Linked DNA regions of Homo sapiens. The protein of the gene in region 7 purifies or fractionates together with the protein of the main gene of each other region. This does not show direct contact. Each region holds a gene or a part of one and is shown on either strand. Other genes may lie near its edges. The genes, in order: MYH10, HADHA, NCAPH, PURA, SPIN1, NOP58 and WDR76.

Evidence for each region.
Region 1: the proteins of WDR76 (region 7) and MYH10 purify together in Homo sapiens (affinity purification with mass spectrometry, with the first as the bait; 2 studies listed by BioGRID). This does not show direct contact.
Region 2: the proteins of WDR76 (region 7) and HADHA purify together in Homo sapiens (affinity purification with mass spectrometry, with the first as the bait; 2 studies listed by BioGRID). This does not show direct contact.
Region 3: the proteins of WDR76 (region 7) and NCAPH purify together in Homo sapiens (affinity purification with mass spectrometry, with the first as the bait; 2 studies listed by BioGRID). This does not show direct contact.
Region 4: the proteins of WDR76 (region 7) and PURA purify together in Homo sapiens (affinity purification with mass spectrometry, with the first as the bait; 2 studies listed by BioGRID). This does not show direct contact.
Region 5: the proteins of WDR76 (region 7) and SPIN1 purify together in Homo sapiens (affinity purification with mass spectrometry; 2 studies listed by BioGRID and IntAct, with this or other methods). This does not show direct contact.
Region 6: the proteins of WDR76 (region 7) and NOP58 purify together in Homo sapiens (affinity purification with mass spectrometry, with the first as the bait; 2 studies listed by BioGRID). This does not show direct contact.

What each region holds. Positions count from the first base shown.
Region 1 is NC_000017.11:8,620,470-8,624,529, reverse strand, and holds part of MYH10 (myosin-10), read left to right. Parts: intron 1-1,252; 5' UTR 1,253-1,283; coding exon 1,284-1,628; intron 1,629-4,060. UniProt on the Homo sapiens protein: Cellular myosin that appears to play a role in cytokinesis, cell shape, and specialized functions such as secretion and capping. Involved with LARP6 in the stabilization of type I collagen mRNAs for CO1A1 and CO1A2.
Region 2 is NC_000002.12:26,227,524-26,231,583, forward strand, and holds part of HADHA (trifunctional enzyme subunit alpha, mitochondrial precursor), read right to left. Parts: intron 2,772-4,060; coding exon 2,669-2,771; intron 1-2,668. UniProt on the Homo sapiens protein: Mitochondrial trifunctional enzyme catalyzes the last three of the four reactions of the mitochondrial beta-oxidation pathway.
Region 3 is NC_000002.12:96,362,879-96,366,938, forward strand, and holds part of NCAPH (condensin complex subunit 2), read left to right. Parts: intron 1-1,602; coding exon 1,603-1,713; intron 1,714-2,997; coding exon 2,998-3,180; intron 3,181-4,060. UniProt on the Homo sapiens protein: Regulatory subunit of the condensin complex, a complex required for conversion of interphase chromatin into mitotic-like condense chromosomes.
Region 4 is NC_000005.10:140,117,151-140,121,210, forward strand, and holds part of PURA (transcriptional activator protein Pur-alpha), read left to right. Parts: 3' UTR 1-4,060. UniProt on the Homo sapiens protein: This is a probable transcription activator that specifically binds the purine-rich single strand of the PUR element located upstream of the MYC gene. May play a role in the initiation of DNA replication and in recombination.
Region 5 is NC_000009.12:88,391,150-88,395,209, reverse strand, and holds part of SPIN1 (spindlin-1), read right to left. Parts: intron 1-4,060. UniProt on the Homo sapiens protein: Chromatin reader that specifically recognizes and binds histone H3 both trimethylated at 'Lys-4' and 'Lys-9' (H3K4me3K9me3) and is involved in piRNA-mediated retrotransposon silencing during spermatogenesis.
Region 6 is NC_000002.12:202,299,817-202,303,876, reverse strand, and holds the end of NOP58 (nucleolar protein 58), read right to left. Parts: intron 3,644-4,060; coding exon 3,510-3,643; intron 957-3,509; coding exon 820-956; intron 492-819; coding exon 441-491; 3' UTR 216-440; downstream 1-215. UniProt on the Homo sapiens protein: Required for the biogenesis of box C/D snoRNAs such as U3, U8 and U14 snoRNAs. Part of the small subunit (SSU) processome, first precursor of the small eukaryotic ribosomal subunit.
Region 7 is NC_000015.10:43,833,328-43,837,387, reverse strand, and holds part of WDR76 (WD repeat-containing protein 76), read right to left. Parts: intron 2,328-4,060; coding exon 2,238-2,327; intron 1,228-2,237; coding exon 1,172-1,227; intron 1-1,171. UniProt on the Homo sapiens protein: Specifically binds 5-hydroxymethylcytosine (5hmC), suggesting that it acts as a specific reader of 5hmC.

The DNA.
Region 1 (4,060 bases), on a different chromosome or scaffold from region 7:
AGTGGAGTGAACAGAGGGGAGAAGTGGGGATTTGATAGAGCAAGAGTAGGTACTCAGTTGGCTTCTTCTGTTGGTTTGAATGAAGTGATGGAAGCCATGCCTATGAAATTTATAATAACCTGGAATTTGGAGTAGCAGCAAAAATGTTTAAGTTGGTATCAAATCCCAAAAAGATCCTGTCAGGCAATCATGATGAGTCACATTAGAAAGATGATGGATGTAAAATCCTGCCATTTGGTCCAGAAAGCCAGTGCACAAGTAGAGGAGGGGACATAGCTTAGCCACAAAGTGATGGAGCTTCCTCTGCTAGCCCTTTGTGAGCCAATGGTAAATGGGTGCTAAATAAAACAACTAGGTCTTGAGATACATTAATTGTAAATGTCACAGAACCAGTACTTTCCTCAATGTGGCTAAGATAGTTGATGGTTCCTTTTTCTTCTGCACTGGTCAGACCATATCTGGGCTATGATGTTTGCTTCTGGGCCACACACTTTAGAGGGAAGACAAGCAGCATGTTGGAGTCTGTTTAGGCGAGAGATCCGGCAGGGGAAGGAGTCTTGGTGAATGAGGGGTGGAGGAGCTGCAGGATGGGAATAGAGGCCTGAACTGCTACCATGACATATTCAAAAGGCTGCCGTGTGAAGCCAAGTTATGCTTGTCTTTTGTGGTCCCAGTTGATCACATTAAGACCTCATGGGGCCATAGAAAAGCTAGAGGGAGACTGATTTGGGTTATTCATAAGAAGAACTTTAAGTCTGTTATCTGAGGGTAGAATGAGAGGCATGTTTTAGATTCTTTAGATTCTTTACTCTTCTGACAATCATGTGTTTTTGTAGCTGTTTCCTTGTGGTCATATTAATTCTGGTACCACTTCATGAACCTTTTATTACCCATCTTTGTTTTCTTTTTTTTTTTCCCTTCTTAACTCCCTGTTTAATTTGTGGTGAGGGTGAAAGAGGAGATAAAGAAAAAAAAGGGTCAACTTGTAACTTTGCCTTTTCTTTTCTTTTCTTTTCTTTTTTTTGCCCTCAGTAACTGAGGGCAAACCCATCAGACAACCAGAGCCATAATTTGTGGTCACCGCTGAAATTTACCTTGGAAACTCGGTTAGTATGGCTGTGAAGAGGTATACCCCAGCTCCTTAACACAGAGTTAATGCTTAATCTAAGGTTTTAAGTTTCTTAGAAAAGAAAAACGTGTACATTCTTTTGTTTCTTAAACATCTAATTTTGCCCTCCTCCTCTTCTCTTAGAGGCAATTGCTTTTGGATCGTTCCATTTACAATGGCGCAGAGAACTGGACTCGAGGATCCAGAGAGGTATCTCTTTGTGGACAGGGCTGTCATCTACAACCCTGCCACTCAAGCTGATTGGACAGCTAAAAAGCTAGTGTGGATTCCATCAGAACGCCATGGTTTTGAGGCAGCTAGTATCAAAGAAGAACGGGGAGATGAAGTTATGGTGGAGTTGGCAGAGAATGGAAAGAAAGCAATGGTCAACAAAGATGATATTCAGAAGATGAACCCACCTAAGTTTTCCAAGGTGGAGGATATGGCAGAATTGACATGCTTGAATGAAGCTTCCGTTTTACATAATCTGAAGGATCGCTACTATTCAGGACTAATCTATGTAAGTATTTCTTCCAAATAATCATGTGAAGTGGTAGCTAGGAATTAATGTAAATTATACATCTTGTCATAATCAAATGAGAATGTGGAATACCCAAACTCTCTGTTTAACATTTCTATTTCTCTTTAAGATAGAAAGATTTGTTGCTTGCTTACCCATGTCTTGCTTTTCTTTGAATCTTAACACATTAAGTTTAAATAATACAGGCTGCAATTACATATAATAAAATGGCATTTGAAGACTTTTGTAGTGGTCTTCTGGAGCATAATAAGGTGGGAGAGAGCATGTAACAGGAAGACCAGAAGGTTTAATAAGGTAAAGAGAGTTGCATTAATTGGACGCAGACAGCAAAACGGTCAAAAATCAAGTGCATACCCAAGAGTAAAGTGGAGGGGCTGTAAGCTGAGAAATTTCTGTGGACAGCATGAACAGCTTCACTGGATGTAGTAGGGAAGTAGGAAAGATGAATGCTGAGGTTTTTAAGAGGAAACAATTAGGGTAAGATTGAGGCTGGCTGGGGTCGTCCTGTGGTTAGCAGCTGACATGAATGTTGGAGTCACCGACTTTGTCACTGACCATGTAGAAGAAGTTATTGAAAATCATAAGGGATAATGTAGAGAGGGATAATGTAGAGAGGAAAAATGTAAGCCAGATACTAAAAGAAAAATCTAAAATGACAAAATAGGTTTGAGGGAATGGTAGACAGAGGTGGCAATGATTTGAAGAAGGTGGCACGTGTGGGACTTAAACTGACGATGAAGGGAAGTAGGAAGAAAAGTTGATGGTCGTGGTTTGAAATCGGAAAAGGGGTGTTGAATTTTACACAAGGAGTGTGCTACTGAAGGTCATGAATAATTCAAAACTTCAGTAAATCAGAGCTAGTTTTCCTACAGAATTAGTTTAAGGAATATTTATTAAGCACCCCCTGTGCTCTAGGTGCTGGGGATAGTACAGTGAAGAAGACAGGCCAGGTCTCTCTGCCTTTCTGAAATGTCCAATGAGGAAATGAAACAAGGCTATGGAGAGAGTAAGTAGGAGAATGGCTTTCTCCAGCGGGTCAGTTAAGGGCTGTTTGTGAAGGTAGCATTTGAGCTGGAGTCTGACTGGTGGGAGGCAGCTAGCCACGAGAAAAGCTGAGAAAAGAATGATTCATTCATGACCTTTGCCAGAGTAGTTTCAACCAAGCCTGATAGATCTCCCTTATTTTCTTCTCTATGAGGTAGGAGAGTAAGAGGCCACAGGGTTGGAACGGTGGCTTGAGGAGAATGGAAAGGCTTAGGAACAACCCTTTTCCAATTTCAGACTAAGCCAGGGATAAGAAAGCGACTGGAGAGTGGCGTTGAGAGTCCAGCTGAGATTGAATAACCACGTGTAGGGTGACCGCAATTTTGCCTGGCTATGTGATTTTGCCAGACCATGGGATTGTCTCAGGTCTGTGAGTGTGGGGGGCTTTGGATCTGCATGGCTTCCACAGTGAGAGGGGGATTCAGTGGCCGTCTTTGGAGTCCTCGTTCGGTAGGAATGGGAGTCTGGGTGGGAGGGGCTGATGGATCAAGGCCTGGAAGTTTTCAGAATGTTGAGGAACAGGGATCATGGGGTGAAGGAGTGAGAAAACTGCAAAATTAAGAGGTTATGGTCAGATTGTAATGTCGACATGTAAGATTTGAGAGGTTGATCAGTTTCAGATGAAGCCCATTGCAATAAATTGTGCAGGTATGGAAATGTGATGTCACCATCAAAAACTGTGCAGTGTGAAGAGGAGCCAGGCTGCTTTTCTGCCAGCCTTCACCTTAATTTCCCACACTGGCAGCTGGAGGTAGCTGCAAAGGGTGCTAAGTAGAAAAGGAATGAAAGAAAGGACAGGTGTTTTTTTGTTGTTTTTGTTTTTGTTTTGCAGCCATTCCACATAATTCAGAGATTTTACAGTTATCTCTTACTGAGTTTGTTGGATTTTTTTCCAACTTAACTCATGGACAACCTGAGTGAACTTCTGAGTTTCTTTTCAAAGCACAGCCTCCTTCTACAGGAGAATCTGAGTTTTTCTCAAAGTCTCAAGGTCACACAGAGGTCGGGGTTTGGGAGGATCATATCTTCAATTAGTTGGGTGGAGAAAGGGTTCTTACCTAAGGTTCTAGTTGGAGAACTTGACTCCAAAGAAGTCTGTGTCGTTAAGAGGATGGGGATGGGGAGAGCCATGCTAGCATTGTGATAAATATGTATTGGGCTTTGGAATTAACCAGCCAGTTGGGATGATCAGTTGAGGTTCAATAATATAGATACTAGAATAATTTGGGTAGAACCTTTTTTGGACATATTTCTATAGATAAGATATAACATAAATTTATTTAAACAAATTAGCTTGCTAACAGGTTTAGTTATTTTATTTTCTTACCTTTTCTTTGGATTTATTCTCTCTGACCCCCAATTTCTCA
Region 2 (4,060 bases), on a different chromosome or scaffold from region 7:
AGAAAAAAGAACTGTTACTACATTCCTGTTAGAATGTCTAAAATTAAAAAGATTGACCATGCAAAGTGGTTGGTACCTAGAACTCTCATACACTGCTGGTGGGAATGCAAAAGAGTATAACCACTTTGGGAAAACAGTCTGACAGAAAAGCAAACACATACCTAGCAAATACTAGTGGCATATGCCTCGTAATCCCGGCTTCTTGGGAGGCTGAGGCAGGAAGACTGCTTGAGCCCAGGAGTCTGAGGCCAGCCTGGGTGACAGAGCAAGACTCAAAGTCTCATCTCTAAATTTTTTTTTTTTCTTCCCAGAGATAAGGTCTCCCTCTCTCACCCAGGCTGGAGTGCAGTGGCCTGATCATAGCTCCATGTGACTTCAAACTCCTGGGTTCAAGCAATCCTCCTGCCTCAGCCTCCCTAGTAGCCAGGACTACAGGCATGTGCCACCACACCCAACTAGTTAAAACTTTTTATTTTGTTGAGACAGAGTCTTGCTATGTTGCTCAGGCCAAACTTTTTTTTTCAAAAGCTAATATATATCTGTTATATGGACTAGCCAATCCACTCTTCAGTACTTACCCAACAGAAATGAAACATTTGTCCACATAAAGACTTTTTTTTTTTTTGAGACAGAGTCTCGCTCTGTCACCCAGGCTGGAGTGCAGTGGCACAATCTTGGCTCACGGCAACCTCCACCTCCTGGGTTCAAGTGATTCTCCTACCTTAGCCTCCCAAGTAGCTGGGACCACAGGTGCACACCACTACACCCAGCTAATTTTTGTATTTTTAGTAGAGATGGGGTTTCGCCATGTTGGTCAGGCTGGTGTTGAATTCCTGACCTCAGGTGATCAGCCTGCCTCAGCCTCCCAAAGTGCTGGGATTAGAGGCTTGAGCCACCACGCCCAGTCACGCCCACATAAAGACTTAAAGATGAATGTTCATAGCAGCTTTATTCAGAATAGCCCTAAATTAGAAACAACTCAAATGCTCATCATTTGGTGAACGGATAAACAAACTATGGTACATTTCTACAATGGAGTAACACTCAGCAATAAGGACAAACTGCTGATATATGCAACAGTATGGATGCATCTCAAAAGCATTATGCTAAGTGAACGAAGATTAAAACAAACTACATACCAGAAATGTTTAAAAATTTTTGTTTAAAAGATGGCATCTCACTCTGTTGCTCAGGCTGGAGTGCAGTGGTGTGATCATAGCTCACTACAGCCTTGAACTTCTGGGCTCAAACAATATTCCTGTCTCAGCCTCCTGACTAGCTGGGACTACAGGTATACACTATGATACCCAGCTAATTGAAAAAAAAAAATTCTTTTTTAAGAGATAGGATCTTGCTCTGTTGTCCAGGCTGGTCTTGAATTCCAGGCCTCAAGCAATTCTCCCACCTCAGCCTCCCAAAATGCTATGATTACAGGTGTGAGCCACCATGCACGGCTATTTTTGGATTGTGGCAGTGTTTACACAGCTATATACATTTTCAAAACTCAAATTATACATTAAAAGTTGGTCAATTTCACCAGACACAGTGGCTCACACCTGTAAATCTCGGCACTTTGGGTGGCTGAGGGAGGAGGATTACTTGAGCCCGGAGTTTGAGACTAGCCTGGAAAACAGAGTGAGATCTCGTTTCTACAAAAAATAAAAAATTAGCTGGTGTAGCAGCGTATGCCTGTGGTCTCAGCTACTCGGGGGGCACAAGTGGGAAGATCATTTGAGCCCAAAAAGTTGAGGTTGCAACAAGCTATATTCACACCACCATATTCCAGTCTGAGCAACAGAGTGAGACCCCAACATGTGTGCGCGCGCACACACACACACACACACACACACAAAATTAATACATTTACTATTATGTAAGTAATATCTCAATAATGCTGATTTTCAATAAATATAAGAGGGTAATGAACACACAAGTCAGAATAGTGGCTTCTTTGGATAAAGGGAGGCAAAGAAACTGAATGGGAGGAAGTAGCCCATCAGTAGATATCAATTATTGTTAATATTCTCAGGTTGGTTGTTTCATTTATTATATTACTAAAACAGACACAAGAAACTGAAGGAAGGTTATGCATGGATAATGATACAGGTAATTTAAGAACCAAAAATAATGACTTGACTGAATTCTGTACTCCTAATGTTCTAATTATAAAGCAAAATAAAAATCAGGGTGATGTTGAAAATGATTTAGTATTAGCTATTTTATAAAACTTCCTTCCTTAGAATAATGACTCATTTCTTAAGAGTTTGAGCTTCTCTCTGTGCTTCCTGTGATATTCAAGAGGTTAACTGTTTTTTCTTTTGAGATGGGAGTCTGGCTCTGTTGCCCAGGCTGGAGCACAATGGCATGATCTTGGCTCACTGCAACCTCAGCCCCGCCAGGTTCAAGCGATCCTCCTGCCTCAGCCTCCCAAGTAGCTGGAACTACAGGTTTGCACCACCACACCCGGCTAATCATTTTTAGTGGAGACAGGGTTTCGCCATGTTGGCAAGGCTGGTCTCAAACTCCTGACCTCAAGTGATCTTCCCGCCTCAGCCTCCCAAAGTGCTGGGATTACAGGTGTGAGCCACCGTGCCTGGCCTAAGAGGTTAACTCTTTAAGAAAATAAGTAACTTTATAAGGTCTGACTCTGAGATGTGCTAACACTTACCCAGGGGTTCCACCAGTTGGTCAACCAGTCCCATTTTCTTTGCCCTGTCTGCACGAATGCTTCTACCAGTCAGCATCATGTCCAAAGCAGCAGGCACACCCACCTAACAGGCAAGCAAGGATGAGAATATAGGGGGAAAAAAATCAGGGTGATAATTATATAGTTTACAAATCATCAAATGAACAAATATTAAAATGAGAAAAGTCAAGCCATATGTTTATGCTATTTGTCAACAGCATAGATAAGTTATATTTAATATACTGATATACACTTGGGTAACTTTGGGGATTAGATACCTCTAGCTGAAGCAAAAATGTCTTTATCTCTTAATTCAATATATAGGATTCTTATACTAATAAGGTAAAGAATTTCATGTTTCCTAAAATTGTACATTTCTGTTATTCTGAGGGGTTTTTTTCTATCATATATATAATATGTAAAATTCTGGCCAGGCACGGTGGCTCACACCTGTAATTCCAGCACTTTGGGAGGCCAAGGCAGGCGGGTCACCTGAGGTTAGGAGTTTGAGACCAGCCTGGCCCGACATGGTGAAACCCTGTCTTTACTAAAAATACAAAAAATTAGCTGGGCATGGTGGGGCACACCTGTCATTCCAGCTACTTGGGAGGCTGAGGCACAAGAATTGCTTGAATCCGGAGGCAGAGGTTGCAGTGAGCCGAGATCATGCCACTGTACTCCAGCCTGAACAACAAAAGTGACTCTGTCCCAAAAATAAAATAAAATAAAATTCTCATATTGAAACTAGAGAAGACTGTGAGAAACCTGATAGTTTTGACAAAGTCTTTAAAAAGAATTTTAAGCTTAACAAAAATAGAACTCAGCTAGGGCTGCTTATATGGCATACTAGAAGAAAGGCTTCTAGCAACATTCAAATACCAGCTATAGTTTAAGAAAAAAAAAAGAAGAAAGAAAGAAACTCAGCAAATATTTTTGATACACATATATGCATATTCATTCTTTCAATAAATCCTTATGACATTCCTATGAAGGAAAGCACATTATTATTATTAGAAAATTAACACCATAAACCTTGTTTTCTTTTGTGCTCAATTGAGATCAACTTCCCTGCAAAGAGTATTTCTGTTGAGCCTTGTTTTCACTGAGGAATCTACAGTGCCAGAAGCTATAAGGTTCAGTGGGCCCTTGAGTTGACATTAAGATTGCTCTGCAGCATCCAGGTCTGACTGTCCTTCCCTTCTCCTTGGAATTCAAAGCCTGCTGAGCCTCTTTTGGTTCCATACAACACAGCAGTGAGAACATCCAAATCAGACAATGAGGGAAAAGGTCTGCCTCTTATATTTGTAATGAAATATTAATATGACTCATGGTTTTGAAAAACTGTTAAGATGGTATTATGTGGAAAAGGAACCA
Region 3 (4,060 bases), on a different chromosome or scaffold from region 7:
TTACATAGTCTTAGTTGATATAGCAGTGGCAGTGTTTGAAAAGATTGACTTTGAATTTGAAAGAAGCTCCGCTATGGATAAAATGCTATCAAACAGCATTGTATGCTTCAGAGAAATCTTTAGTGACAGGAAGAGTTGATTGATGTAGCAAACTTCATTGTTGTCTTATTTTAAGAAATTGTCGCAGCCACCCCATCCTTCAGCAACCACCACCCACCCTGACAGTCAGTAGCCATCAACATTGAGGCAAGACCCTTTAACAGCAAAAATATTACAACTCACTGAAGGCTGATATGATCATTATAATTTTTTAGCAATGAAATATTTTTAATTAAGGTATGTAAATTGTTTTTTAGACATATACTGTTGCACACTTAATAGACTCCAGCATAGTATAAGCATAACTTTTAAATTTGTGTGACTGGAAGTGCCTGTATTAAACACTGGACATTTGGCTAGGGACACCTGAGAGTGTGCCCAGAGGAGAGTATTCTAAATGAAGATGCAGTTAGAAGTTGTGTCATATGAAGAACAGTGGAAGAAAATGGGGCGTTTCTTAATTCAAGTATTTATTGTTTAGTAGTAGTTTTGGATTTGTTACAAGCACATTGTGGGTTTATTTGAGTTGTTTTTGAGGCACAGAATTATATTAAAATATTCAGTGTGCTCTTGTAAACTGTGCACATCTCCAGTCACATTTCTCCTACTTCAGAGATTTATATATCAAGTAGAAATCACTGGTCTAAGGAAGGACCTGCAAATATTTGAAAGACTGTGATCCATAGGCACTCGTAAAAGAGGAGCCTCATTCCACGAGGCTCTGGAATACAGAATGAGGATGATGGATGTAATTAGAGGGAAGAGCTGGATGTCTCTCCTTGTTGCCATGTAGGGAACAGTGGTTTCCATTCAGGAATGAGACAGGCTGTTAATTAAGGTAATGGGTTTTCCTTTTTTTTTTTAAAGACAGGGTCTCAGGCTGGAGTGCAGTGGTATGAGTATGGCTCAGTGCAGCCTCAACCCCTGGGCTCAAATGATCCTCCTGCCTCAGCCTCCTGAGTAGCTGAGACCACAGGCACACAGCACCATGCCATCTTTTTTTGTAGAGATGGGGTCTCACTGTGTTGCCCAACGCTAGTCTCAAAATTCCTAGGCTCAAGCAGTTCTCCCACCTCAGCCTCTCAAAATGCTGGGATTACAGGTGTGAGTCACCGTGCCTGGCTGGTAATGGGTTTTCTGTCAAAATTGTTCAAGTGCAACAAGGTGACTTTCAGAAAGCTGGAGGGTAGATTTTCCAACTTTTGTTTTTAGTGAAGGAACCCTTTTTCAGGTAAAACTGTGCAGAAGGCCTAATTGCCAGTCACACAGAAATAGAGCTGCTCTGGTTTATTTGGGATTGGTAGAGATGCTGAGCCCTGCTACTCCAGGTTTGCACTGTATAGTGGAAAAGTCTGTTAGACTTAGATGACTTGTGAGGGCCCTTCTGACTCTAAAATTGTATAATTCTAGGAGGAGATTGGGCATAGGAATTAAGATTTACTTCTCTAACCTAGTTCAGTAGCTTTTAACAAAATAGCTTTCTGCATTTATTCTTTCCTTTAGTTACTTAAGATGGCCCAGGGCCATAGGGTAGAGACTGAGCATTATGAAGAAATTGAAGACTATGATTACAACAACCCTAACGACACCTCCAACTTTTGCCCTGGATTACAGGTAAAGGGGGGAAAGGGGCTCTGTCCTCTCTTCTAAGCCAGGGAGTCGTTTTTCTCTGCTTCTCATGTCCCCATTTTATATGGTGGGAGACTGTTGGCAATTTTGAATCCAGTGGAGGTTTTCTGGGTAAAGGGTCTGCCTTCCACCCAGTGCAGGGAGCTGAGCAGAGTCAAGGAAACAGCCTCACCTTGGCCTGCCTTACCTCACATCCTACATGCAGGAAGCAAATGGCCACACTCAAGTGAATGCGTCGACATGTGGATGGGTGTTTAGCCTCTGCTACAAAGTACTAATCTTGGCTGTTGTGGGATTTCAAAGGAATATAAACACTTTGTCCTCTTATGAGCTAATATTTTGGCCAGGTAGACAACCAGATCACACCATATGTGATCTGGTGTGGCAAAAAATAAGTCTTCGGGGTGTATCTCAGATGACCAGATTTCTAGCTGTGAATGCAGTTCTCATATTGCAAGCTTGCTGTGAACTTGTACAAGCCACCCCCCATCTTTAGATCACGGTTTAGACTAAATAATTTCCATATCCCTTCTCTGAGTCTACTGATGAGATGGCTAATACAGGTAACAGAAACTGGAAAAATAGGCTTCATCTGTGTCCCTGTATGTGGAAAGGGGGGAACGAACTGGAAAAAAATGTATTCACCTTATTTTCTTACTTAGGAAGAGAGTTAGGCTGTTATATTTTAGTGAAAATCCAGACTGACCTCTTGACTAGTGCTTCTCAAACTTTAACTTACATACAAATCACCCAGGGAGCCTATTTAAGGACTGATTCCTGACCTGTGTCCCCCCACCCCACCCCCTGCCCGAAGATACTGATACATTCACTCTGGATGTGATCGCAAAAATGACTTTCTCACCTGCTTCTGGGTGGTATGCCTGCTACTGACCAGATGGCCCCAGGAATCTCCTGTGCTTTCCTTGGGTGATATGTTCAGGTCATATCTCCGGTATTTGAGGAATGTTTCTGTAAAATGAAATCCTAAATTTGTTAGAAGCTGAAGGGGGGACATAGTGGCAATTATGGTTATCGAATTCCTTTTAACTCCCGCTCAAAAGGTCTTAGGTTGATAACAGACACCTCTCTAATAGGGTTTACGTGAAACAGGATGATAACTAGAGGCACCTAGAAGTTCATCGTAGTGTAACTCACTGAGTGAACCATCAGATGGTCTCTTCTTGCTTTGTAAACATGGAGTCTATTTCAAGGGTGTTTCTGAGCTCCTCTGCAGCGTCCACCAAACTCGAAGAGCTGTTTCTTGCCCAGGCTGCTGACAGTGATGATGAAGATTTGGATGACTTATTTGTGGGACCTGTTGGGAACTCTGACCTCTCACCTTATCCTTGCCATCCACCTAAGACAGCACAACAGAATGGTGACACTCCAGAAGCCCAAGGATTAGACATCACAACATATGGGGAGTCAAACTTGGTAGCTGAGCCTCAGAAGGTACGGATGAAACAGCTGAGAATTACATTGTTTGCCTGAAATCTATTTAATTGTCTCTTATATGAGAGTCACGCAATCTGAGCTTGATTTCTTTTCTTCTCAGTTTTAACCTGTTGCTCTCCAAGTTTTAAATAGGGTTGTGGGAGTGAGCTGATGCTAATTAGGTTTGTGTGGAACTGACCATCTCTCCAAAGACCTTGATAAGACATGTAACTAGGGAGGAACTGGTCACCCAAATAAGGCATATGAATGAAGGCTGCAGGCAGAGAATATAAATTTATATGCTAATTCAGCAAGGCTAGCTAGCTAGCTGTGTGGCTCTGAAAAATCTTGGCCAAATTCAGTTTGTATTAAATTATCATGTATTAAACATTTATCTCTTCCATACCAGGTGGCAGGCTTTATGCTTGCCTTTATATTTGATTCATTTATCTCTTTTACACTGGAATTCCAGTTAGCCTTAATGTAGATTGCACTGGATTGAAAAGAAATTAGATTTGATATGAGGGACTCTATATAGTGTCCAAAGAGAGCTCTGGGCTGGGCGTGGTGGCTCACGCCTGTAATCCCAGCACTTTGGGAGGCCAAGGCGGGCAGATCACGATGTCAGGAGTTCGAGACCAGCCCGGCCAACATGGTGAAACCCCGTCTTTAATAAAAATACAAAAATTAGCTGGGCATGGTGGCAGGTGCCTGTAATCCCAGCTATTCTAGAGGCTGAGGCAGGAGAGTCATTTGAACCCAGGAGGCAGAGGTTGCAGTAAGCTGAGATCATGCTATTGCACTTCAGCCTGGGCAACAGGTCGAGACTCCGTCTCAAAAAAAAAAAAAAAAAAAAAAAAGAGTTTGAGACCGCGTGGCCAAAATGGTGAAATACCAT
Region 4 (4,060 bases), on a different chromosome or scaffold from region 7:
TTGTTTGCTTTTAATATTCAATGTTAAATATGAGGTGACCGTACAGTAGTTAGGAGTTTCTTTACTTACAAAATCACTGGAAATGATTAAATTGCTTTTCCCCCTCCCCAGAGGTGCATTTTTCTTATTTCCATATAGTAAAGTTGAGCTTTTACAGTGCATAATGTGACATTTGGAATGCTTATCAACTGCATGTAAACATTAATAACCTGCACTTTTTTGTCTTAAGGTTTGTTGAGCTGTTTTGTTCACTGTACTTTAACTGTGATATGGAAAAGACTGCATTCTCTGTGCTGTTACTAATTAGGAAAGAGAATTGCTTTGATTTTGTCTCTTGTTTACTATAGCTTCTTAAAGTTAAGCCTTGTACTACAGGTTGTTGGAGTACTCCTAGATCACTGTTTCATAGTAGCCAGCAATAAGTAGTGCAAGTCAACAAAAACACAGCAAACTTAGGCAAAGTGTCCTTTCTTTGAGATGCGAGTTCTTTCATGAGGTTTTCTTTAGGGCCAGAGTTACCTAAAGTGAAGCCTTTCTTATCTATAGACTTCAGATTCTGCTTGGAATCCCACCGGCTCAAGAAGCACATGTATTGTGCAATTAATTGTCTTTACACTAAAACAGTTTAATACAATCTAACTACGATTTTGAAACCAGTGTCTGATTTATGGTCAGTGGGTTTAAAAAGAAATCCACATGCAGATCTTTTAAGACTTAAAAAGTGATCATAGAAAAGACTAAGTGACTGTAAAGATGCTCTTTTTTTAAGCATCTCACTTTACCTCCCCAAGCACCCTCCCAAACCTTGTCTTCCCTCTTCTGTTGCATCCTTTCCCTACCCTTCCCTCCCAGGTGCTCGGTACTTTACCTAGTTTCTATATATCAGTGTTTTATGTTGGAATTTTTCCTTGTTTTTATTTTACTAGTTGGTAAACCCTGTTTATGCTGAAACAAATAAGGAAATGGTATATTTGACCATATGTGTTATTCATAGAAGACAGTATGATCAAATGTGCCAAAAACAAGCAAACAAAACTTAATTCCTGAGAAGTATGCCTTATTTTTATTGATCTGCTTTGTCTTACAATTAAGGTCCAAGAGCTTGGTTAAACTGTATTATTTGCCTAAGTATAAAAGAAAACTTGAACTGCATTGCAATATTGACGTTCTTTAAAATGAGAGACACTGTCAAGTAATTTAATCCAGAGATCAGCCACCAGATTTGAAATGCTTATGTATGTGTGTGTGTTTGGAGTTGTTTTTTTCTTTTAAATCACCAAATTTTTTTTAAGCTACTTTTTATTTGTGCCTCCTATTTATCATGCTGATGTTAGAAGCAGCAGTCATCCAGCCACAGAGGGAGCTAAAGTTAACTAACCAGAACTGTAGAAATCATTATACATGCCTTTGACAACAAAGGAAGTTCATAAGAAAAGCCATGTCGGCTTTTCCTCTACTAGATACAGATTGGAGGTAGATGAATATTTGCCAAATGGAAAAAAAGACAATGCTAGTCAGAAAAGACAAACTGTTTTCCAGCTTCTCAAAAAGCCATGGAGAGTAGAAACCAAAACCAACAGGGAAATAAAAAACCTTGAAAGTCTCACTTTCTAGTTGTCCCATGCAGGGGTTGAAATTTGATTCCAAGCGGAAAGTATATTATGTTTTTTCAGGCCTTCACATCTAGAGAGATGGATAACTTCCAATTTGATTTTTCAGGTAATAGAGAAAGCTGCTAGTAATTTTAACCCCTGCCTAAAGAAGACATATACTTCATTTGGGAGCAAATACTTATTGCCTTGAAAAGTAGCACTGTAATAGCCTATGATAATTAGTTGTAGAATAACCTTTATCCCTTTCAAACTATGCAAATTATTAAATAAGTGTAAATTAGGATTCAATTAAAGATAGTTGATTATATTGCAATCAGATGGCATTCACAAACTTAACTGGAGCATATACAAATATATTAGTCTAAGTTTTGTATGCTAACAGAAAGATATAATTTAGCTACCTATTCTAAAAATGGTGAATATTATTAATATTGTATAATAGGAGTGGGAAGACTGCCTCCTTTTTTGAAGAGAGAGATTAAGGATTTTTATAATTGTTTTTCATCAAATTTTAATATTTTTGTCAAATTTTTAGGTATTTAATTTGTAAAACAGTTTGCTTTGTACTGGCATACAGAAAATAGGGTATTGATTTTAAACTTTTTGAAGCCAAGTGATCAAGTACATTTGTAATAAAAGTCAATGGATCTATATCAGTTGTACTCACTGTTTTCATTTCTTATTAATATAGGGATGCTGTACTTTTTCTTAAGGAAAACTGAATTAAATTTGGGTGGAAGGGAGGGGGAAAAGATAAATCCGTTGATAATGAGAATCTGGGTGGGTATCATGGCCCAAGCACTTTATATCATTTTTTAAGTCAGTTAAGATTTGATATATTTTAAAAGATACTATGTCAACTTTTTTCTTCCTATTTTCTTATGTAACTTGACGTTTGGGGGGATTATCTCATTCATTTTTGTTTGTGTGCTTTTAACATTTTGTGTTTTGGCCCTGTTCAAACTTTCTAAACACATTTTTCTTTTATGACATTTTGGGTTATCTGCTAGACCTGGTGACCCCACCATATGGGCATGATTATTTTTATCTTCCACACATGGTTCACCTTCTTGTCTACAATATTCCCACTCATTTTTTCAGGTTATATATACACACACATTTCCAGATAATTTTAGAATGGGGCTATCTGAAATTGATGGTCTAGTAGCTTTCATAGCTCCACAATTCATTTTATTTTACATGTGAACATAATTTTAAGATTTTCTTCACCATAAAAAGTGAGATACCAAGTCTAATGACTTTTTTCCCTTTTTAAAATCTTTTGAGTATCAGAATGAGACCTTGCTATCTATGTAAAAGGATGCTAAAACAAGGGCATCTGTAGCAACTTAGGTTTGGAATAGTTGGTGATGACTCTGAGTATAACATTTATAGTTTATTATCCCTAAATTTGAATATCTTCATAATTTGGAGAGAGATGTATACACACACATACACATATATATGTATATATACATTGTGTGTGTGTATATGTATATAGATACACACATCTCCTTGAGAGTGGAATAAGTAGGAGAGATAATTTATTGGAATTGCTTACATAGATAAATTCACCAAAGTTATTTGTGTAGATTTGTTAAAGTGTATCAATTTTTAAATCACAATATTTCTGTTTTCTTCATTGCATATTAACCAAATTTTGGCCATTCATAAGTATGCTATAAAACTAAAGTGATCACTGCTATTCACGAATTATTATAGAATCTTCTTTGCAGATTTTGTGATATATTAAGAAAAGCTGATTTTAATATTAATATTTAAGAAGTTATTTGATCCTGAAAACCTAAATTTAAGGTATAGGCCATTTGACACGTCCTTTTTGAACAGAAATTTCATTACAGGCTAAGTGAAAATAAGCCAGAATTAGCATGAGTCAGGTAGAATTTCATGATAAAAGAACAACCAGATGAAATAAGAAATAATGATTGGTTTCAAGCCAATGAATCTGCTAAGCTAACTACCAAGTTTTGATGTTGAATGGTCCAGGCAATTTATGTCTTTAGGAAAGCTGAGTGTGGCAAAGGTCACTTGTTAACATTTTTCTTAACAAGAATGTCATAACTACTCATTCATTTTTATTTTGTCCCCACGTTTGGTATTTGTTTTGTTTTGTGTTTTTCCTTCCTGATGTCCTTTGCTTTTGTGGAAGATTGTCCTGTTGATAGGCAGAAACATGGTGGTGATCCTCTATGTAAAATATAGTTGCTTCTTACACATCAGAAGTATTTCACTCATTTTGGAATCACAGGATTTTCATGTTTTCATAAATACACACATTGTTTTGATAATTATTAGCAATTAGCTTATTTTGTAGCATTAGATGGAAAAATGTTTAAGCTAAAGAGTTTAATTTTCTTGATTTTGGTTCCACTTTAATAATTCAAGAGGCCTCCAAGTTCAAGGACCAAGTCCTTCTATTTTAGAAT
Region 5 (4,060 bases), on a different chromosome or scaffold from region 7:
ATTAAAGTGAAGCTGTGAACATAACTTTTTAACACAGATCAGATTTTTTAACTACATAAATGTTCACATAAATGTTCTACATGTTAAAAAATACATTAAATAGGCCAGGCGCGGTGGCTCACGCCTGTAATCCCAGCACTTTGGCAGGCCGAGGCGGACAGATCACGAGGTCAGGAGATCGAGACCATCTTGGCTAACATAGTGAAACCCCGTCTCTACTAAAAATACAAAAATTAGCCGGGCGTGGTGGCGGGCACCTGTAGTCCCAGCTACTCAGGAGGCTGAGGCAGGAGAATGGCGTGAACCCGGGAGGCGGAGCTTGCAGTGAGCCGAGATCGCACCACTGGACTCCAGCCTGGGCGACAGAGCGAGACTCTGTCTCAAAAAAAAAAAAAAAAAAATACATTAAATAAAAAACTAAAGCAATTCTTAAAGGAAGAATTTCAGGCAAACAACCCAAATTAATTATCAAACATATAACATAATCAGAGAAAATCTTTTCAAATGGCCTTCCAAATTAGAATGTCAACTGTACATGCTTATGTGGATATATTTTAAGGAAAAAACCATAACCAAACATAAAGCTACAGTTGCTTATTAGTGTTATTTTCAAACTACATTTATACTGTAAGATAATGCAATTATATTAATGTTGCTAAGAATGTAAATTTTCAACGTTAGAGAAAAAAGGATAAGCTCATAGTAAAAACTCTGTGATGTTAAATTCGAACTGGAAATACCAATATAAAAATCAAAATCTGTATGCTTCCCATGGCTGTCCAATAAAAGCATGGGCATTCTAACAGTAAGAACATATAACACCCAGATTTCTGTATCTAAATTCTAATCCTCAATAAAGCAAGCTGAAAGACTCGGTTGATAGGTATTTGGCAGGAAAAGCACAAAGTGAACCTTAGACATCTTGTGTCAGAAAGCAAGAAAAGCTTCAGAGATTACGTGTCATGTCAAAGGAAAGAGAACCAGGTTGAAAGGACCTCAACATGTCCAAGTTGTGAAAAGCTAAGGAAAAACAGTGAGTATTTGATTAAAACACTGGATAAAGCCACACATGGTGGCTCACACCTGTAATCCCAGCACTTTGGGAGGCTGAGGTGAGAGGATCACTTGAGCTTGGGAGTTTGAGACCAGCTGGACCAACAAGGTAAAACCCCATCTCTACTAAAAATACAAAAAATTTGCCAGGCATGGTGGTGCACGCCTGTAATCCCAGCTGCTTGGGAGGCTGAGCCAGGAGAATAGCTTGAACCCGGGAGGCGGAGGTTGTAGTAAGCCAAGGTCACACCACTGCACTCCAGCCTGGGTGACAGAGCAAGACTGTCTCAAAATTTAAAAAACCAAAAACACACATTGGATACATAAAAATCCATGGGTCTACAATGATGCTAAAGAGAGAAAGAAAAAAGTAATTCAAACCCCTCCCTCCAAAAAAAATCAGCTCTGGAGAGATGGCTGACGCCTGTAATCCCAACACTCTGGGAGGCCGAGGCGGGCAGATCACAATGTCAAGAGATCGAGACCATCCTGGCCAACATGATGAAACCCCCGTCTCTACTAAAAATACAAAAATTAGCTAGGTGTGGTGGCACATGCCTGTAGACCCAGCTATTCGGGAGGCTGAGGCAGGAGAATCGCTTGACTCCCGGGAGGTGGAGGGTGCAGTCAGCTGAGACTGCGCCACTGCACTCCAGCCTGGTGACAGAGGGAGACTCCGTCTCAAAAAAAAAAAAAAAAAAAAAAAAAAAACCCAAAAGCAAGAAAAAGGACATTCTTTTCTCTCCTTATTGCCTGTGTCAGGTTAAGCAACAGTAATTCAAATATATGATATGATTTGTTAAATCATTTGCAGACAGGCCCAAGCATAAACAACTACAAAGAAATATAACCTAGTTTTAAAAAAAAAATTGCCTATTTTGTTAACACGCTACTATAACATCTCAAATGGTAAAAAGATGCCTTACTAGTCTTTTCATGTATTCTCTCACCATTTGGATAAAATAATATTTACATTGAGTAAATTCTTCCTCCTCCCCTCCCTTCAGGAAAAAAAAAAAAAAAAGCACATTTAACATAACATTAAATATTCTGAGTTCAGACCAATACCCCATGCCTTAAATGACTTCACCAGCTTCTCTAACAGGCTAGACTCTGGAGATTAAAGATCCTACATGGGCAGGTTCCTCCAACTCACCTTTCATACTGTTCTAAAACACAGGTCCAATCCTGCCCCTGCTTTCAATGGTTTCCCTCTGCCTACAAATTCAACACCAACCACCTTAATGTTACATGCAGAATTTAAAAGGTGGCCCCCAAATTCATCCCTAGACAGATCAGCCATAGGAAAGAAACTACAGGTGGTGTAGGCAGTGGTGACATCATCATCAATATCAACTGGGCATTTACTGTACACCAGGAGCCTATGAAACATTTTACTTCATTTAAGCTCACCCCTGATGAGGTAGGTGTTCTCGTCCCCTGCTATACATAAACACACTCACAAAGGAGGATAGATAGAAAATAGTAGCTAGGTAGATAGGTAGAAAAAGAGGGAGGAAGGAAGGAAGGAAGGAAAGAAGGAAGGAAGGAGGGAAGGAAGGAGAAGAGAGGAGAGGAGAGGAGACAGGTAACAAGGGGCTAACTTTTGGCTGGGATTGAAATCCCCGATGGCCTCTTTAACTCCTCTCATGCCTCTGTTCCTGCTTTCCCCTCCATCCAGATGTCTTTCTTCTCCCATTCTGATAATCTATGGAATCACCTTCTCTTCCCAGATACCTTCAGCACAGAATTCCCTCATTATATGCATGTGTATCTCCTCTATCAGACTATAAAGTCTGTAAGGATACATCTGTGTTTATATATTTAGCCAAACACGACTTGTTCTATAAAGGGTTTACGGCAATTTTAAGGTCATGAACAGGCTCCCAGTAAAAACATAATTTAACATTAAATTGGACTGAATACTGATGCACAACTAAGGAAACTGTTTACCTCAACATTAAAAAAATGCTAATAACTACAGCTAAGTTCAAAAGTAGAAAGGAGAAGGAAATCAACATCTACTGGCGTCAGCTGCTGTATTTCAGGAACTGTACTGAGAACTCTATAAATCCATTTCATGTAATTCTCAGAACAGACTTACACCATAGGTTTTATCCCAGTTTATAGGTAAGGAATTCAAGGTTTTAAAAGGCTTTGCGGGTTGGCTCTTTCACCAATATTTGCTGGAGTTTGGGTTTTCAGGCTCTTTCTGGGTCATAGATTTCTTTCCAGGATACCTTGTAGCAATTTGAGAGCTGGCATCACTTCCCGCTGGGTCCCAAAGATGCAGGAAGAGCTTAGTACTGTTGACTAGACCGCGGATGGACCCACCACAAAAGTTTAACCCAACCTTGACCCCAGAATCTTCACAAATGCTCAGTGAAGAAAATCCCCAGGACGACTCGGGCCTCTCTTCTGCTCAGAGATGTCAATAAAGAACTTCAGTAGCGTGACTTTCAACCCTAGTACCAAATTCCCTTCCCTTCTACCAGAAGATTCATCCCAACAACTGGATAGAAGAGAAACGACCTTCCAGGACATCAGAGATGGCTTGCCTCAGGAGTAGAAGTAAGAACGCTGCTACCTATGCAGAAAGGAAGTATGGCAAAATTGAGATACCTGTTACTCAACAGATGTTCTTGGCTTGAAAAACTAGTAGACACTGGGCCAAAGGGAGAGTTCAGAATGAATCAAGAAGGGAACCATTCAAATGTGGCTGCAGTTTCTGTTATCATAGATAGCCTGAGAATGCTACAACAGGGAATCATGACACCAAGCCAATTCAACCATAAACTGTCATTCTTGTACTTTTTTTTTCTTGCTGGTAATTTTATGTATTAGGTTGAGAAAGCTAATCTATGTTAGAAGAGCCTGTATACCAATAATTTTAATAAACAGTTCTGTGATTTTTTTGGGTATATTTTCATTTCTACCATACCACCAATAATTTATCAGAGATCTATGTAGCTTGAATGTATTTGAGTAACTTCAACATACTTCAGCT
Region 6 (4,060 bases), on a different chromosome or scaffold from region 7:
TAGGTGGAAAATAAAAAGTAGTCCAAAAAGGCAAAAGAAACACATTAGAGTGGGGTCTTGAATTGGTCCACTTAATCACTGACTTCCAAAAGATTAAATTTCAAAACAACTCTCACTTTTCAGTTATAATTATCAAAACAATAATCATCACATGGCAAACTACAGAAAGAGCCAAAGATTCTCTACCTAAGATATAAAGAGATCACAAAATTGTCTTAAAATACAAAGAAAATTTTATTTGTATATCAAAGACTCTAAGAAATGATGACATAAGGTTAACAGAGTTGATGTCAAGACAAATAGGTTTGAAGTTATAGATGATAAATCACTTTGTCTTACTGAACCTTCCCTTGATTACGTTAGAGAGCATCCCTGGTATGCTCCCAGTTGAATCTTAAGCATGATGTGTGTCCGGGTGATATAATCGTAATTCCTTTCTGTTAATCCTCGTTCTCTCTCTTTTTTTTCTTTTTCTTCTTTTTCTCTGGACTCTGAAAATAGCCAACAAGAATGCTTTGAAAGAGCTGAAATTGTATGGGTGAGTAATCACATTGAAAATATAAAAACCCCACCTATAAAAAAAGTAAGCTTGAGCAAATCATACTCCTCCCCTCAATGCAAACTTGATTTTTAGTAATAAATTCTAGATTTGGGAAATGGCCTTTTATAATATAAATACAACAAAGCCATTTCACTTTTACCTCTCCATCAATGAAAACCATTTTTTAAAATGCCTGCTCATTTCTGATATAGAAAATAGATTGAAATATAGAGAACTGGCCCCTCCAAGTGAAAACCGATAATTAAAAACAAACATACAGCAATTGCTGTGCTGGTACATGGTTCTTCCTCAGAAAGTGGTTCTTCCTTAATGTGTTTCTTTTTACCCCTTTTCTTCTTCTTCTTCACAGATGTTTCTTCTTCTTCTGCCACTTTTTCTTCTTCCTCTTCTTCAACTGAATAGGGTAAGTGTAAAGGCACAACAAATTAACACTGTATCAGATCTCATTCCTTCCAAAAACGTTTGAGTCCTAGTTTTTTTCTGTCATTCTCATCAACTACCCAATGTTTGTTTTGTTTATTTTATAATTGGGAAGGTTCTCCAAGGCCTACCACTAACTTTAACGAATGATATAGATAGAGCTCAGAGCAATCTTCTCACGATCATGAAGTCATGTATAAAAATCAGGATTAAAACAAAGGTCATCTGATCTCCAATCATTATTGGGAAGAAAGTCAATTATATTAGAAATGGTTAAGAGCTTGCACTCTGAAGTCAGACGGCCTGGGTTTAATCTACCTGCTGCAACCCTGAAAAATTGTATTTACCCTTGGTGAAGCTCCCTATCTATAAAACTTAAGAATGTCTTATCTTACTGGACTGTTACTGATTTAAAAAGATGATGCATAGAAAGCACTAAGTATAATGCTTAGCACACATTACAATAAGGACTCAACACATAGCTATCATTAGACATTCAGTGACCAGCTGGGTGCAGTGGCTCACGCCTGTAATCTCAGCACTTTGGGAGGCTGAGGCGGGAGGATCACTTGAGGTCAGGATATCAAGACCAGCCTGGCCAACATGGTGAAATCCTGTATCTAATAAAAATACAAAAAAGTTAGCTAGGCATGGTGGTGCATGCCTGTAATCCCAGTTATTCAGGAGGCTGAAGCACGAGAATTGCTTGAACCCAGGAGGCGGAGGCTGCAGTCAGCCAAGATCACGCCACTGCACTTCAGCCTGGGCGACAGAGGGAGACTCTGTCTCAAAAAAAAAAAAAAAAAAAAAAGAAAAAAAAAAGAAAAAGAAAAGAGAGAGAAATTCAGCAATTCAGCAACCAAATAATATTCATGTCAGACTCTGTACTAAACAATTCGAGCAAGGCACAAGAGGCAAAAATATTCGTTTCCCTATGAATCTTTTTTATTTTAGTGGCAGAGTGGAGACATAAATGATACATTACATAATAGATATTAAAGTGGTAAGAATAAAAATAAAGCAGGAAGGGGAATGTTGGAAAAGGGCAGTATATATGGCCATTTTAGGCAGAATGGTCGGCAAACACCTAGAAGAGGTGAGGGAGTGAATGAATGATACATGTATCTTGAGGGAAAATAGTCCAGGTAGAGTAGAGCAGATGCTTAAGTCGTAAGGCGTTTTGGAGGGCAGATGGGATAAGTGGATGGATAGTAGGTTCAGGAAATAGCAAGCAGGCCAGTATGGCTGGAACAAATTTAGATTTAAAAAGCTAGTGGTGGTTCCACTGTGGCTACTACATACTTTCAAGTGGAACTGAGAGGATTTGCTGTCAGACTAGATTGAGTTATGAGAAAAAAGTCAAGGTTGATGGCCAAAGCAACTGGAATTGTCACATATAGAAAATGGGAGAGGACTGGGCGTGGTGGCTCATGCCTGTAATCCCAGCAGTTTGGGAGGCCGGAGTGGGTGGATCACAAGGTCAGGAGTTTGAGACCAGGCTGGCCAACATGGTGAAACCCTGTCTCTACTAAAAATAAAAAAATTAGCTGGGCGTGGTGGTGCGTGCCTGTAATCACAGCTACTCAAGAGGCTGAGGCAGGAAAATTGCTTGAACCTGGGAGGTGGAGGTTGCAGTGAGCCAAGATCATGCCACTGCACTCCAGCATGGGTGACAGAGCAAGATTCTGTCTTGGGGGTAAAAAAAGAGGGGGGAAATTGTGGGATGAAAAATTGACAAATAAATTGGAAAAGCTTATTGGATACACAATTGAGGATACAAAGGACAGAGTTTGGTGCCTCAAATGCTACTAGTGGGTTTAGGGATCTCCTTACTTTTCAATAAAAAGAAGCATAAAAGTTAAATAAATTGTTTGTTTTCTCTATCAAGTATACTATCCACATTTGTAGATCATATACTTTTGACCACTAAGCTACTTAGAAACCAAGTTAAAGCAATCATTGTGTTAATGCTTTACTCTTCTGCTAGACTTGCTAGTAGGTGTTCAATAAACCCAGGTGTAACTAATAATGGGGCGCCTGCTTATCAACTTCACAAGACAGCCTAGTTAACTGGTGAGCACCTGTTAGATATTGTAACTATGACGGCAGGCTACCAGTATGTATTCCTTCCAGTCCGCTCCGTGTAAGAGAAACAATGAAGAAAATCACTGTTCCATCAATTCTGTATTCATTCTTAACTATAAAACAAAAAATTTTCAACAACCAATTTAGAAAACACGTTCCTTTTTTCTCTTAATTCTCCAAATAGTTCATGTAGGAGAAATGAAGTTTTGGAACTCTTAGTAAAATACCTAATTTGACTAAACTTCTCACATTTCCTCTGTGCAGTCTGATAAATTTAACAATATCATATTCCCAGAGAACATAATGGCATTATTAAAACACCATTAGCGTTCAATGAGCAGTTTTATAATAAAGTGGGATGGCATGTACTTTTAAGACTCACAAAATCCACAGTTCTAAAGAAGTGAGTATAAGTTGTGTTAAAAAAAAAATTCAAACTAACCTTTAACTTTAATCTTGGCTTTTTTGGCTTTCTTTTCAGTAATTTCATCCTCTTTATCTACCTGTTCTATTTTGCGTTTTTTAGAACAGGTTGGAAGTGTGGAGTCACCAGAAGGATCGTAAGTCTTCACTTCACTGAAAGACCCAAAAAGTTTTAGAAAATCTCTAACAAGTATCTGGAATTGAAATAATTCTCAAGAGATAAAGAAAATGCCATTAGATAATACTTACATAAGCACACAATGTTGTTTCATTTTAGTGGCTTTGGGGTAGTTTATGAAGACTAATAGTTTCCAAAAGTTAAAGGTATTAATATTTTTCAAGTAGGTCAATCACATTCAAGAGATGTGGTGAGCTAAATGAATTCTGATTTAGTAATCAATGTAGTTACTATGGTACAGGAAAACACTCAATCAGCATGGGGGAAATGAAAGGAGAAAACGTCTTCACACCTAACTAGAAAGTGAAAACTGAACCATCCAACTTTCAGAACACTGCTCAATGGGGGAAAAAAAAAAAAAAAAAAGCAGAACAAAAAATCTAAACCAAGCT
Region 7 (4,060 bases):
GGACCAGTGCTACTGTTTTTCCAGTGTTAATGATGTTCCTCTTATAGTAACTTTTCACACTTGAAAATACCTGGCCATGATTAAAGGTCCAGCTTTTCTCAAGCTAATTGTCCTGTAACAGAATCAAACCAAGTAAATGAAGCTACATTTCATTAGGAACTGGCACTAAACAAATGAGCTAATGATACCAAGATTTTAGTTTCTTCATTTATATGTAAGCACTGCTAAAATGCAATGGAGATAATTCAAAATTTAAACACCCTTGAGTTCAAATCCTAAAGCTACCACTTATAAGCTGTTTTGACTTTCAGCAAATAGTTGTTTTTTTTTGTTTTTTTTTTTTTTGTGAGATGGAGTCTCACTCTTATTGCCCAGGCTGGAGTGCAATGGTGCAATCTTGGCTCACCATGACCTCTGCCTCCCGGGTTCAAGCGATTCTCCTGCTTTAGCCTCTTGAGTAGCTGGGATTCAGACATGTGCCACCACACCCGGCTAATTTTTAATTTTTTTTTTTTTTTTAGTAGCGATGGGGTTTCTCCATGTTGGTCAGGCCAGTCTTGAACTCTCGACCTCAGGTGACCCCCTGACTCAACCTCCCAAAGTGCTGGGATTATAGGCATGAGCCACTGCACCCAGCCAACAATTTTATCTTTTGAGCCTGATTTCTAACTCACAAAATGAATATATTACCTACCACATGCAGTGGTTGTCAGAGTTAAATGAGATAATATAGGACAAAATTGCTAGATCACTGCAGTATGTTTCAGAGATATTCAATAAATGTTAATTCCTTTCCTTTATTCTAGGACTAAGAAAGCAAAAACAAATTGAGACGCAAAAAGATAGCCAGAAAAATTAAAAGTAAGTAGAAGAATCTTTAATAGTTTTCTAAGTGACAGTAATTTAGTGGAAATAAAGATTTCCCTTCATTAGTAGCAACAATAAATATAAACAAAATTCAGCTCTCCATTTTATTTGCTCCATATTCCTTTGATGAAGATGAGAATTGTAAAGTTATTAAAGGGTAGCATTCCCTCAGAGATCCTAGAGGGACTGAGATTAAATAGCACTTTATGATCTGTTAAGCTTACCACACCAAACCATTTTTTTCAAATTATAAAACAGTTGAGCAATGTATCATGGTTCAGGCATTGCAAACTAGATATTTTACCTTTTGGATTTAGGAGGCTGTCTCTTCTCTATCATTTCACGGAGTCTTGCAGCAGACTGTAAAGTATAAAAATCATGTAAAAATGTTATAACTACGTATCTTACCTTTTAAAATATTAAGCATCTGCTACTATACCCACACTAAACTAAGGTCTATTCAGGAACTAAAGATCCTTAAGATAGGCCATGAGTCATGATCAGCGCCACTGTACTCCAGCCTGGGCAACGCAGCGAGACCCTGTCTCAAAAAAAAAAAAGACAGGCCAGGCATGGTGGATCACAACTGTAATCCCAGCACTTTGGGAGGTCAAGGCAAGTAGATCACCCGAGGTCAGCAGTTCGAGACCAGCCTTACCAACATGGTGAAACCCCATTCCTACTAAAAATACAAAAATTACAGGCGTGGTGGCGGGCGCCTGTAATCCCAGCTACTTGGGAAGCTAAGGTAGGAGAATCACTTGAACCCGGGAGGCAGAGGTTGCAGTGAGCCAAGATCGTGCCATTGCACTCCAGCCTGGGCAACAAGAGCAAAACTCCGTCTCAAAAAAAAAAAAAAAGACAAAAAAAATAATGCCTTAGAATCAACAGAGTACAGTAACCTCTTCCTATTAAGCACAAAACCTGCTCCAATTTTACCCTCCCTCATATGACACTATGAAACCTGATATGTTATTGACCTGGTGGGAGTTATGACATCTTGGGTTTTACGGCTCTTGTTGTTGCTGTTTTGAGACAGGGTCTGGCTCTGTTGCCCAAGCTGGAATGCAGTGGCATGATCATAGCTCACGGCAGCCTTGACTTTCCAAACTCAAGCCATCCTTCCACCTCAGCCACCCCAGTAGCTAGGACTCCAGACATGCATCACTATGCTCAACTAATTTACTTTTTATAGAGATTGGGGTGGGGGGCGGGGGGCGGGGGGCGGGTCTCCGTATGTTACCCAGGCTGATCTCGAACTCCTGGCCTCAAGCGATTCTCCCATGTCAGCCTCCCCAAGTGACAGGATTACAGGCGCTACCCACTGTTCCCGGCCCTGCATCTTGCTTTTAAATAGACTCCACACAAACCTCAGACAACTGAAGAGAAGCAAAAAAGTCTGCGTTTTCTGATATGTTCTTCAGTCTCTTCCTTTCGTAGGGTGACAATCCCGAAAAATCCTATAAAATTACACCAAAAAGATTCCATTACTTTATATAATCTACAGGAAAAGCACTTCACAAAACTACATGTTTCATTTTCTACATGAATACTTTACTTCAAATTGTACTATCTCTATTCATTTCATCATCTTACCAAAACAGACGTTTGCTGAATTGGATATTTCAGTAAGTCTGGATTTGGGATACCCCCAAAATATCTGTATGGCTTCCCAGTTAAGAAGTGATCTGATATTAGAAATCAAGTAGTATGATCTAGTAGCAAATTATTTCCTAGTGGCAATTAATTGTACTATTACACAAAAGTTATTTTTGGCCAGGGGCAGTGGCTCACGCCTGTAATCCCATCAATTTGGGAAGCTGAAGTGGATGGAACACCTGAGGTCTGGAGTTCAAGACCAACCTGGCCAAAATGGTGAAACCTCATCTCTACTAAAAATATAAAAGTTGGTCAGACGTGGTGGCTCACACCTGTAATCCCAGCACTTTGGGAGGCCGAAGTGGGCAGATCACCTGAAGTCAGGAGTTCGAGACCAGCCTGGCCAACATGGTGAAATCCTGTCTCAACTAAAAATACAAAAAAAAAAAAAAAATTAGCCAGGTATAGTGGCAGGAGCCTGTAATCCCAGCTACTCAGGAGGCCGGGGCAGGAAAATCGCTTGAACCTGGGAGGTGGGGGTTGCAGCAAGCCGAGATCGCACCATTGCACTCTAGCCTGGACAATAAGAGCGAAACTCCGTCTCAAAAAAAAAAAAAAAAAAAGTTATTTTTTTCCAACAAAAAAACTTCCCTTAAACGCAGTAGAGTGAGTAAGTACATGTCTCTACTTTCTCCTAAAAAGCCACTAATGTAACAGTAAGCTAATTTTTTAAAACCCTGAGATATAAGGCAGTATATTCAGGAAATAGCAAAATACTGTAAGAAAAGAAAATTCAAAAAATAAGAACTCAATAGTTTTTAAATCCATGAAAAGGCTTAAATTTAGAAAGTAGAACAAAAAGATAAACACATGAACAGAAAAGACAAAAAAATACTCAGTCTTAGAGGTCCAATATCCAATTCATTGTTCGAGAAACTGCTGAGAAATTGGAAGAGAATCAATTATTAAAAAATAATATAAATGGCAGGCCGGGTGTGGTGGCTCACGCCTGTAATCCTAGCACTTTGAGAGGCCGAGGCAGGCAGATCACCAGGTCAGGAAATCAGGACCATCCTGGCCAGCATGGCAAAACCCAGTCTCTACTAAAAATACAAAAATTAGCCGGGTGTGGTGACACACGCCTGTAGTCCCAGCTACTCGGGAGGCTGAGACAGAAGAATTGCTTGAACCCGGGAGATGGAGGTTGCAGTGAACCCAGATCATGCCACTGCACTCCATCCAGCCTGGGCCACAGAGCAAGACTCCGTCTCAAAAAACAAACAAACAAAAAAAAAAAAGAAAGGGCTGGGAGCAGTGGCTCACGCCTGTAATCCCAGCACTTTGGGAGGCAGAGGCAGGCAGATCACAAGGTCAGGAGATCGAGACCATCCTAGCTAACACAGTGAAAGCCCATCTCTACTAAAAAATACAAAAAATTAGCCGGGCATGGTGGTGGGCGCCTGTAGTCCCAGCTACACAGGAGGCTGAGGCAGGAGAATGGCATGAACCCGGGAGGCGGAGCTTGCAGTGAGCCGAGATGGCGCCACTGCACTCCACTCTGGGCAACAGAGCCAGACTCCATCTCAAAAAAAAA